Regions from separate parts of the Homo sapiens genome. Here region 1 is linked to region 2. The links come from fine-mapping of genetic effects on gene expression. A gene starts in region 2. The other region holds a variant in brackets. All regions are shown on one strand. Distances are between the middles of the regions.

What was found. PIP is the estimated chance that this variant, and not a neighbour inherited with it, causes the effect. A credible set is the group of variants that fine-mapping cannot tell apart.
Region 1: its variant is the best candidate, but not a certain one, in a credible set for the expression of RANGAP1 in whole blood (INTERVAL, PIP 0.60).

Annotation. Positions count from the first base shown.
Region 1 is chr22:41,261,664-41,266,889 of GRCh38, reverse strand. It overlaps RANGAP1 (Ran GTPase activating protein 1), which reads left to right. Exons shown (of 16, transcript NM_002883.4): 5 at 2,047-2,226. Among named protein-coding and RNA genes, the nearest start is that of MIR6889, 11 kb to the right of the region's middle. RefSeq lists an enhancer at 1,895-2,770. The variant C/T (reference allele first, on the strand shown) is at 2,249.
Region 2 is chr22:41,283,400-41,288,625 of GRCh38, reverse strand. RANGAP1 (Ran GTPase activating protein 1) reads left to right here and starts at 2,439. Exons shown (of 16, transcript NM_002883.4): 1 at 2,439-2,640. RefSeq lists enhancers at 1,547-1,596, 1,917-1,986, 2,017-2,236, 2,667-2,736.

The DNA of each region.
Region 1 (5,226 bases), 22 kb after region 2:
AGGAAATTCATTTCAGTGATTGCATGTTAAAGAATTTCAAGTTAGGCCAGGCGCAGTGGCTCACGCCTGTAATCCCAGCATTTTGGGAGGCCAAGGTGGGGGGCGGTGCACGTGGATCACCTGAGGTCAGGAGTTGGAGACCAGCCTGGCCAACATGCTGAAACCCTGTGTCTACAAAAGTACAAAAATTAGCTGGGCGTGATGGCAGGGGCCTTGTAATCCCAGCTACTCAGGATGCTGAGGCGGAAGAATCACTTGAACCTGGGAGGTGAAGGTTGCAGTGAGCTGAGATTGTGCCATTGCATTGCAACCTTGGGTGAGAGAAAGCGAGACTCCATCTCAAAAAAAAAGAATTTCAAGTCAGAAAAGATGGTGAAGAGAACTCTCTTTTGCATACTCACTGTGGAATTCTCACTGTGCAAGTTTTGCCTAAATTTTAGCATTTCATTTCCCTGAGCTTTCAGAAGGTATTCTTTTGGTTTTTGTTTTCTTTTACTTGACTCTGTAGGAATGGGGAAGAGAAAGTATTCTTATCTCTATGTTCCCAATCGTGAGAATAAATCTTAAGAGGGGGATAAGAGAATTTGGGGTTAGAAGATGGCATGTGGTGGAGTAGGCACAGGGTGTTTGAGCAGCTAGAGGTCAGTTGAGGCCAGATCGCCAGGGGCTAGGCTTTTTTTTTTTTTTTGAGGCGGAGTCTCACTCTGTTTCCCAGGCTGGAGTGCAGTGGCACGATCTCGGCTCACTGCAAGCTCCGCCTCCCGGGTTCATGCCATTCTCCTGCCTCAGCCTCCCAAGTAGCTGGGACTACAGGCGCCCGCCACCATGCCCGGCTAATTTTTTGTATTTTTAGTAGAGATGGGGTTTCACTGTGTTAGCCAGGATGGTCTCGATCTCCCGACCTCGTGATCCGCCCACCTTGGCCTCCCAAAGTGCTGGGATTACAGGCGTGAGCCACCGCACCCAGCCACCAGGGGCTAGGCTTTCTGTGGGTAGGGCAACGAGAGGACACATTGCCTTTTGCTTACTGAGTGGTGGGAGGATGGTAGAAACTGCCTCATCTGCCATATCTGTGGCCAGGGTGAGGGCAGAAAGTCTCCCTTCCACATTCCTGCCCCCATGGACCACCTGCTCAGCCCCATTTCTGACCCAGTCTCTGGCAGAGCCTCCTCTCTGACCATTTCTCCTGGTGGGGTGAGGGAATGTAGCTCTCCCCAGCCCAGGAGGTTTCCAGGAGAGCTTCAAATCACCCTGTCAAAGCTGATCCTGGCCGTGGCTTAGAGATGGCCACCTCCATCTGCCAGTCACCACCAGAAACCCTGGAGGCATTTGTGGTTCCTCCCTCCCTCCTCCTGCACGAACAGGGAACCAACAGCTTCTGCATGTCCCCTGCTCCATGAACAGGCAGCTCCTCTCCCACACTTGTCACACCGGCTGGCAGGTCCCCTCTGTTGCCAGTGTCGCTGCCTCACACTCCTGGGTGGGCACTCCAGCCCCCCTTTCTGTGCATCTGCTCACCTCAGGTCTGGGGATATTAATTCCATATCCCTCAGCCACCTCAAAGCCCACTGCTCTCAGGCTGAGGCTCACAGTCCTTGGCCTGGCATTCAAGGCTCTTGCCTGATCTGACCCCTCACTTCCCTTCCACCCAAAGCCCATGCCACGGCTTCTTCTGGAGCCTACCCACAGCTTTCCTCCAGGCTCACAGCCTGCTGCTTCATGCTTATGTCTCTCTGCTCCTGTTTTTTCAGCTGCCTGGAGTCTTTTCATGTTGACTAGCTGATTCTCATCCAGACTAAGTCCAAATGCCACCTCTTACAAGGAGCCTTCCCGGGCCACTCCAGGCATACGCATCCCCCACTCTCCAGCTGTTAGGAGCCCTTTGCAGGGTTTCCAGTCTTAAGAATACTGAAATGGTTTGTGTCTGTGTTGGTTCTGCACCAGCCGGGGTGTCCTTGGAAGGCAGAGCTGGGCCTGGCACAGAAGCAGCACCCAGCACAGAAGCTGGGTGTCTATGAAACTGACACGAGCTTCCTCTGTGCCCAGATCTCACTAGGGGAAGGACTCATCACAGCTGGGGCTCAGCTGGTGGAGCTGGACTTAAGCGACAACGCATTCGGGCCCGACGGTGTGCAAGGCTTCGAGGCCCTGCTCAAGAGCTCAGCCTGCTTCACCCTGCAGGAACTCAAGCTCAACAACTGTGGCATGGGCATTGGCGGCGGCAAGGTGGGTGTGGCAGCCCCCTCCC[C/T]GCAGAGTCCCCTGGTCCATCCACATCCGTCTGACATATGTGCCCTGGCCCTTGGCCACCACCATCTGGGATGGTCAGCCGTTGTTTTCAAAAGAGAAAGGCCTCAAAGGCAACAGCCTGTGGCCGGAGGGTAGAGGCGTCCATGAGGGTGGGGTTGCCAAGCAACCATCCCCAGTTCTTGGGTTGGCTTGGCAACGCAGAGGGAGTGCCACTGCATACCTGCTCCAGCCTGCTGGCTCTGCAAAACTCAGGGCTTGGGGCATCCCTATACTCACTGTACCCGCAGAGCAGCTGGTAGAGCCTGGCACATAGGCAGAGGGAGTCTGAAAAGAGGAGCATATGCTCAGGGGGGGCACCGTCACAGCTCACCTTTATTCCTAGACAGGGCCTTGCCCAGGGAGGTGTCCTCAGGCAAGGTCAGTGTAGAGCTTCACGTTGGGCTGGTCAGTGTAGAGTGGAGCTTCTTTGCTTCCCAGAACCTGCATCAAGGGCGGCCTGCCGTATTATTCTCTTCCAACTCCATCCCAGTGCCTTTAGACCCAGGGTTGGAGGACACTGAGTGCCAGGCTGCAACCCCTACACACACTTTCTAACCAAAGGGAGAAAAGGGCTGGGGACACAGAAGTAACAGCAGTTGGGGATATCTTATTTGAATATGCAATACCTTAACTTTTCCCACCCACACTGAAAGGTGGCTGATGCCATCCCAGTTTTTCCACATGACTCAGCATAGGCTTAGAGAGATGGGGTGGAGTGGATCACATAGCTAGTGCTGTGAGGCCCATGGAGCCCCAGGCTGAGGAGCTGGAGTGGCCTCCCCTGCAGAGGGTGCCTGTGTCCCTCGGCCTGACGTGAGGGTGAGCAGGGGCAGGCTCTGTGCCTGCCTTAGCCAGCCCTCCCCCAAGTCCACTTGGGCAATAAGCTATCCCTGTGTTAAGATGTAAAAATGGGCCGGGCACGGTGGTGCAGTGGCTCATGCCTGTAATCCCAGCACTTTGGGAGGCCGAGTCGGGCAGATCACCTGAGGTCAGGCGTTCGAGACCAGCCTGGCCAACATGGTGAAACCCCATCTCTACTAAAAATACAAAAATTAGCTGGGTGTGGTGGCAGGTGCCTGTAGTCCCAGCTATTCGGGAGGCTGAGGCAGGAGAATTGCTCGAACCCGGGAGGTGGAGGTTGCAGTGAGCCGAGATGGCGCCACTGCACTCCAGCCTGGGCAACAAGAGCAAAACTCCGTCTCAAAAAAACAAACAAACAAACAAACAAACAGAAACATATAAAAACGTTTGCGTCAGCACAGAAAGCAGGCGTGGCCCAACCTAGAGTGAGTGGCATACGCTGGGAGAGCCAGAGACTCTATTCTAGCAAAATGCTTCGGTTTTCCTTCCATTACTTCCCTTCTCCTGCCCAGCAGTGCCTGGAAACTGAGGCTCAGGGAGCTTTCCTACTGGCCAGGAGTTGTCTGGCCTGTCCTATACTTGTAATGGGGTGAGTTGGGGAATGAGTTTTGGACCCAGGACCAGAGGGCCTCCTGGGCAGACAGGCCTACCCTGGAGTTTGATTGATGGTTCTCTGTGCCTCCCTGACCACTGATTTGATTAGGTCTCTGGGTCTCGGCCTTGCTGACCTATGCCTCTTGGGAGCTCAGACGCCATGGTCTGGGTGTCTAACCAAGGCCTGCAGGTCCTTTGGAATCTTTTTCTTCTGGGCAGTGTGTTTAGTGTGGTTTCTGTGCCATGCACCATGAGAATAGAAGGGCCCAGAGGAGTTGGTGGGGCAAGAGGCATGGCCCTGTGCTTGAGAACTCTCCATACCCAAGTTGGACTCCTGCAGGAGCTAAGGCCATCACCACGTGGCCTCCAGGGAATCTGGGAGAATGGGGGTGACCTAGCAGTCGGCTGCTGCTGCTGAGTAGCTTCCTCAGAGGCTGGTCTTTGGCAGAAGTTTGATGTCTCTACCCTGAGTGTGTGCGTGATCGTGTGTGCGTGATCCACCATCACCACCGTGGAGTCAGGCAGGTGCTGGCTCTTCTGTTCCTCAAGGATGGCTGTGTGCAGTCTCATGCCAGGAGTTAGGCCAACCCACCCGCCATGTGCGGCTTTGCTAAATACTTACCGGGTGACCTTGGCCAATTCACTCATCTCTCAGAGCCTCAGCTTCCTCATCTGTAAAGTACGGCCAATCCTGCCTGCCTCCCAGGCTGGTGTTGAGGTTGAAACAAGAAAATATGCCAAGGATGCCCAGGCCCTAGCAGGTGCTCTGCAAACATCAGGTGTTCTGCAAATATCACTTCTCTCGGTGCACTCGCTCGTGATTCTTTTATGTCGCATTTACCATGGGCTCTGATTCCCATCGGTCAGTCTCCGTTTTTCAGTGCTTTTCCTAATGGTGTAACCAGGGTAGAAGCTACTTCCTGGCACCACACCAGGGACAGGGCAAGCTGGGTGTTAGGTTTTTACCACCAGCAGGCAAGCTCCTGCTGTGCCTGGCCAGCTTTTAGGCACAGGCAGGTGTCAGACAGGTTCGTCTGGACCGTGGACTTGGCAGCTGGCTCCCTTGGACATTGTGGAACGTGGAAGAGAAGCTGGAAGATTTGGGCTTTGGTCCAGAGTCCACCACTTGTTTATTGACCATAAGAAAGTTTCCGTTCCTCTTACCCTGAGTTTCTTCAGCTGGAAAATGGGAGCCATGATTTTCCCACCTAGCAGAGGGCCTTAGACAGTGAAGTGAGCTGACTAGGAAGTCCTTCCCCTGGACCTGGCTAAAAGTTCATCCACTCCATGTGGTCTCTCCCTTTCCTGAGTAGGGCTTGGTCTCCCCGTCTCGAAAGTGAAGCTAAACCTCTCAGGCTGGTGTGACACAGCATTAGAGATAAAAACCTTGTGTAACTGAAGTGCTGGACATATTTAAGGTGTGACTGTTGAGCTGTTAGCAGTCCTGCGTCCCCTGACCTGCACCGATGGGTGGCGTGGGATGTT
Region 2 (5,226 bases):
GGGAGGTCTCTGTGTGAGGGCCAAGGAAAGTCTCAAGAAGTAAAATTGGAAAAGGGAGCCTGCGGATCACCCCAAGGAAAATCCAGACTGATTCGATCAGTCCTAGCTGGAAGCAGCACAGGAATAGCAGGAAGCCTATGACTCATTTTAAGCAAACATCCGGTAACCCGACTGGTATCTGGTTCAAATGGGGAAACCTGAAGCACCTATGACAGGCCAGGCCCAGAGAAGATACTGCCCAGATGGATACAGCGTCTGCTCTGGAGACCCTCCCAGGCTGAGGAGGAAACTGCCAAGAACAGTGTTAACTCTGTCAAAGAGCCCCAGAGTCCCAGGCCAACTGCTGTGGGGCTTTGCATCTTGCTGTGGGCACCTGCAGGAGGGAGAGACTCATGAAGTAGCATTTGACATGGGCCTTGTAGGTAAAAAGGAGAGGGAAGGTGGAAAGAGGATCCACATCTCAGGAACTTTGAGAACTGGGAGAGTTACACTCTGTCTAGAGCTTCAGTTTTCTCATCTCTGTGCTGGGAAGGGTGGTAATGATGCCCACTTCCCTTGTGGTGGTGAAGATTAAATGAGCTGTGTGTAAAAGGATATGGCATGATCTGTTAATTAATTAATTAATTTATTTATTTATTTAGAGACGGAGTTTCGCTCTTGTTGCCCAGGCTGGAGTGCAATGGTGCGTCTCGGCTCACTGCAACCTCCGCCTCCCGGGTTCAAGCGATTCTTCTGCCTCAGCCTCCCGAGTAGCTGGGATTCCAGGCATGCGTCACCATGCCCAGCTAATTTTATATTTTTAGTAGAGACGGGGTTTCTCCATTTTGGTCAGGCTGGTCTCAAACTCCTGACCTCAGGTGATCCGCCCGCCTCGGCCTCCCAAAGTGCTGGGATTACAGGTGTGAGCCACTGCGCCCAGCCTGCATGATCTGTTTAACTTTTTTTTTTTTTCTTTTTTCAGTTTTTGAGACAAGGTCTTGCTCTGTCGCCAGGGCTGAAATGCAGTGGTGCAATCACGGCTCACTGCAGCCTCAAGCTCCCAGGCTCCAGATCCTCCTGCCTCAGGCCCTTAGCTGAGACTACAGGCTTGCACCATCACGTCCAACTAATTTTTGTATTTTTTGTCGAGACAGGGTTTGACCATGTTGCCCAGGCTGGTCTCACACTCTCTCGCCTATAATCCCAACACTTTGGGAGGCCAAGATGGGCAACAAGAGTGAAACTCCATCTCAAAAAAAAAAAACAAAAAAAAAACGCTGTTTGTGTTTTTATGCTTAAATTCACACCTACAGAAAAGTTGCAAAAATGTTCAAAGAACTCCCATATTCTTCAACCAGATTAACTGATTAACATTTTGCCACATTTGTGTCTCTGCTTTCTCTATGTATATGTATAGGTATATTTCTTTTAACCATAAAGGTTGCAGACATCATGTCCTTTTTGTCCCTAATTATTTCAGCATTTTTTTCCAAGAACAAGGGCAGTCTCTTACATAACCCTGTACCATAATCAAAATTAATAAATTTAACATTGATACAATACTATTATCTAATATAGTCAAGTTTTGCTGTTTCAGTATTGTCCTTTATAGCAATCCCCACCCAGGATCCGATCCAGGACCATGTCTTGCATTCAGTTGTCTTTTTCGTTTCCTGTAATCGGCAACAGTTCCTCAGTTTTTCTTTGTCTTACATAATACAGACATTTCCGGAAGGGTACAGATCAGTTATTCTGTACCATGTCCCTCAGCTTGGGTTTCTCATGATTAGACTAAGGTCATGCATTATAGACCGGACGGTGACGCCGTGTTTTTCTCAGTGCATCACACAGAAAGCGTGCGATGAATGTCAGCTTGTCCTGCTGTTGATGTTAACGTGGCCGTTCAAGTGGTGTCTGCGGAGCTTCTCTACGATAGTTACTATTTCCCCTTTTTAATTATCAGGTAATTTGTGCATATTTATGTGGAAGCCTTCGAATGCCCTTTCAGTTTCATGGGACGGAAAAGAGTCTTTTCTTTCGGGAAATGGATACCTGTGTCTTGCCCAAGAGACCCAGCAGCCAGCAGTACCTGTTATCAACAAAGTTACGCGAACAAAACCTTTCCGGAAGAGCTGAGGGACCTGGGTGCAACGCATTCTGGGAATTGTAGTCTCTGGGCGCTCCCGGCTGAACACCTCCCTGCGGTCTCTGCGAGAAAGAGCCAGAAGCCACCAGGGGAGGGCGAAGAGGAGGGCGGTGGAGGACGCTCTGCGCGCGGTGCGCCATGGGACGGGTAGTTCGCGGTGCGCGCCCCATCGCGCTCCCAGATGGGGAACCGGACTACTCTACCCGAGAGGCCGCGCGAGCGGGGCGAGGGCAAGCCGGCCGGGGCCTCGAACAAATCAAATCGAAGCAAAGAAACTGCCGGCTTTCAAAATCCTCCTCCTCCGCCATCATCCGCCGCGGTGCGGAGAGCAGGTGGTGCTGGAAGCGCGTGAGGCCGGGAGCTCGAGAGAGCTAACAGACTAGCCGGCTGGACATCTGGACCGCTGGATCCGGAGGTGGCGACCCCGGCCTGACCCGGACCCTAAATCCGTCCCCGCCCCAGAGGGCGGAGGCGCGCGCTCGATTCCCCCCACGCGGCGGCGCCGCCTGTTTACGGTAGAGTCAGGGTCCCTTTCCTTTCCCCGTCACCTGCCTGGAACAGGGGTGCGGGGCGAGGAGGGCGTGGCGCCCGTGTGCGCCTTCTGCCTGCCCCCTCGGCCTTCTTCACTTAGCCTTCGACGGCCGAGCGCCCCAGGGGTGGCGGTGGGAGTGGGGTTGTTGAGCGGCGCTGGCTCCTTTCACAAATGGGGAAACTGAGGCTTAAAGGGCGTCTGACTCGCCAGAGCAGCTCAGCCTGCAGCTGCTAGCAGTGGCGTCTCATATTAGCATTGTTGTCAACCGGAGGCGGTGCGAGTCCGCCGGGGATTCCAGATGGGGCTCCTGCGCCGCCCGCCTATCATTTGCGGCCTGTATTCGCGCGTCGCTCCCGCAGAGCCACCTCCCAGCAGGCCCACGCCCGCGGGGGCCCCGGGCTGGCGCCGCTGTCCCTGGAATCGATGTGAGTCACTGCTGACGCTTTGCAGGAGCATGCATCTCACCTCAGAAAGTCTCTGACGTTGCTGCGGAGCGGGGAGAGGATGTTTCTCTATTAGCCCTTTGCTTTTGCTCTGGCGCTGATCCTTTGCTGACCTTGGACAAATCAATTTACGTTTCTGTGCTCCAGTTTCTTGGTTTATAAAGTGAGTGTGGAGGGGTGCATCTCTGTCTCGCTCTCTCTTGGACTGAGGAATGGGCCCCCGTTCAGCTGAGAAGTTCTGTCCCTATTCTATCTGGAGGCTTCACCACCACCTTTTACCCTCAAATTGTCCCATCTCAGAACTGCAAGAGATGCTGGGGTTTCAGGTTAATTTTTTTGTTGGTTTTTCTTTAAATTTTTTTATCTTTTTAGAGACGGTCTCCTTCTGTCACCCAGGCTGGAGTGTAGTGGAACGATCACCGCTGAACTGCAGCGTCGGCTTCCTGGGCTCAAGCGATCCTCCCACCTCAACCTCCCAAGTCATGGGGACTACAGATGCCATCACACCTGGCTAATTTTTAAATTTTTCTGTGGAGACAGGGTCTCATTCTGTTGCCCAGGCTTGTCTCGAACCCTGGTCTAAAGTGATCTTCCCGCCTAGCCTCCCAAAATGTTGGAATTACAGGTGTGAGTTATTGCACTGGGCTGGTTTCTGGTTAATTTATTTTTTGAAACAGGGTCTCCAGAAGTACAGCAGCAAGATCTCAGCTCACTGTAGCCTCCACCTACGGGGCTCAAGTGATCCTCCCACCTTACATCCCAGGTAGCTGGGACTGCAGGCACCTGCCACCACACCCAGCTAGTTTTTGTATTTTTAGTGGAGACAGGGTTTCGGCATACTGCCCAGGCTGGTTTCTAACTCCTGTGCTCAATCGATCCGCCCACCTCAGCCTCCGGAAATGCTGGGATTGCAGGAGTGAACCATTACACCCGACTCTGGTTAATTTTTTTTTTTTTTGAGACGGAGTTTCACTCTTGTTGCCCACGTTGGAGTGCAATGCCACGATCTCAGCTCACCCCAACATCTGCCTCCCAGATTCAAGCGATTCTCCTGCCTCAGCCTCCTGAGTAGCTGGGATTACAGGCATGTGCCACCACGCCCGGTTAATTTTGTATTTTTGGTAGAGACAGGGTTTCTCCATGTTGGCCAGGGTGGTCTCGAACTCCCGACCTCAGGTAATCCACCCACCTCAGCCTCCCAAAGTGCTGAGATTATAGGCGTGAGCTACCGCACCCGGCCTGGTTAATTTTTATTTTATTTTATTTTATTTTATTTTTTTGAGGTGAGTCTCGCTCTGTTGCCCAGGCTGGAGTGCAGTGGCGCAATCTCAGCTCACTGCAAGCTCCACCTACCGGGTTCATGCCATTCTCTTGCCTCAGCCTCCCGAGTAGCTGGGACTACAGGCCCCCGCCACCAGGCCCGGCTAATTTTTTGTATTTTTAGTGGAGACGGGTTTCACCGTGTTAGCCAGGATGGTCTCGATCTCCTGACCTCGTGATCCGCCCACCTCAGCCTCCCAAAGTACTAGGATTATAGGTGTGAGCCTTTGCGCCCGGCCCTGGCCTGGTTAATTTTTATGCAATTTCAACTGGTCGTTTCTTGAGCACCTTCTAAATGCCAGGCTCTATGTGGCAAGTAGAGTGATCCTGTCAAAATGTACGTCAGATGACATCTGCTTTCTGCTAAAAACTTCAGTGGTTTTCCTTGTCACTTATAGCGAAAGCCACTGTTCTTCAAATGGGCTTTATGACTTGGGCCCCTTGTTAACTGTCTCTTCTCTTACCTTGTTTTTTTCCTCTCTCTCTGTGCTTCAGCCCCACTGGCCCTGTTGCAGTTTCTCCAACCCTCTGCCCCTACAAGAGCCATTGCATTTGCTATTCCCTTTGCAGGAATCATGTTCCCCCAGATGTGTGCATGGCCCAATCCCTGATATCTTTATTTAACTATTTCCTAATAATGCCTTTTTGTTGTTGTTGTTAATGCCTTTTTGTTGTTGTTGTTGTTATTTGTTTGTTTTGAGTTGGAGTCTTGCTCTGTCGCCAGGCTGGAATGCAATGGCGCGATCTTGGCTCACTGCAACCTCCGCCTCCCGGGTTCAAGCAATTCTCCTGCCTCAACCTCCCGA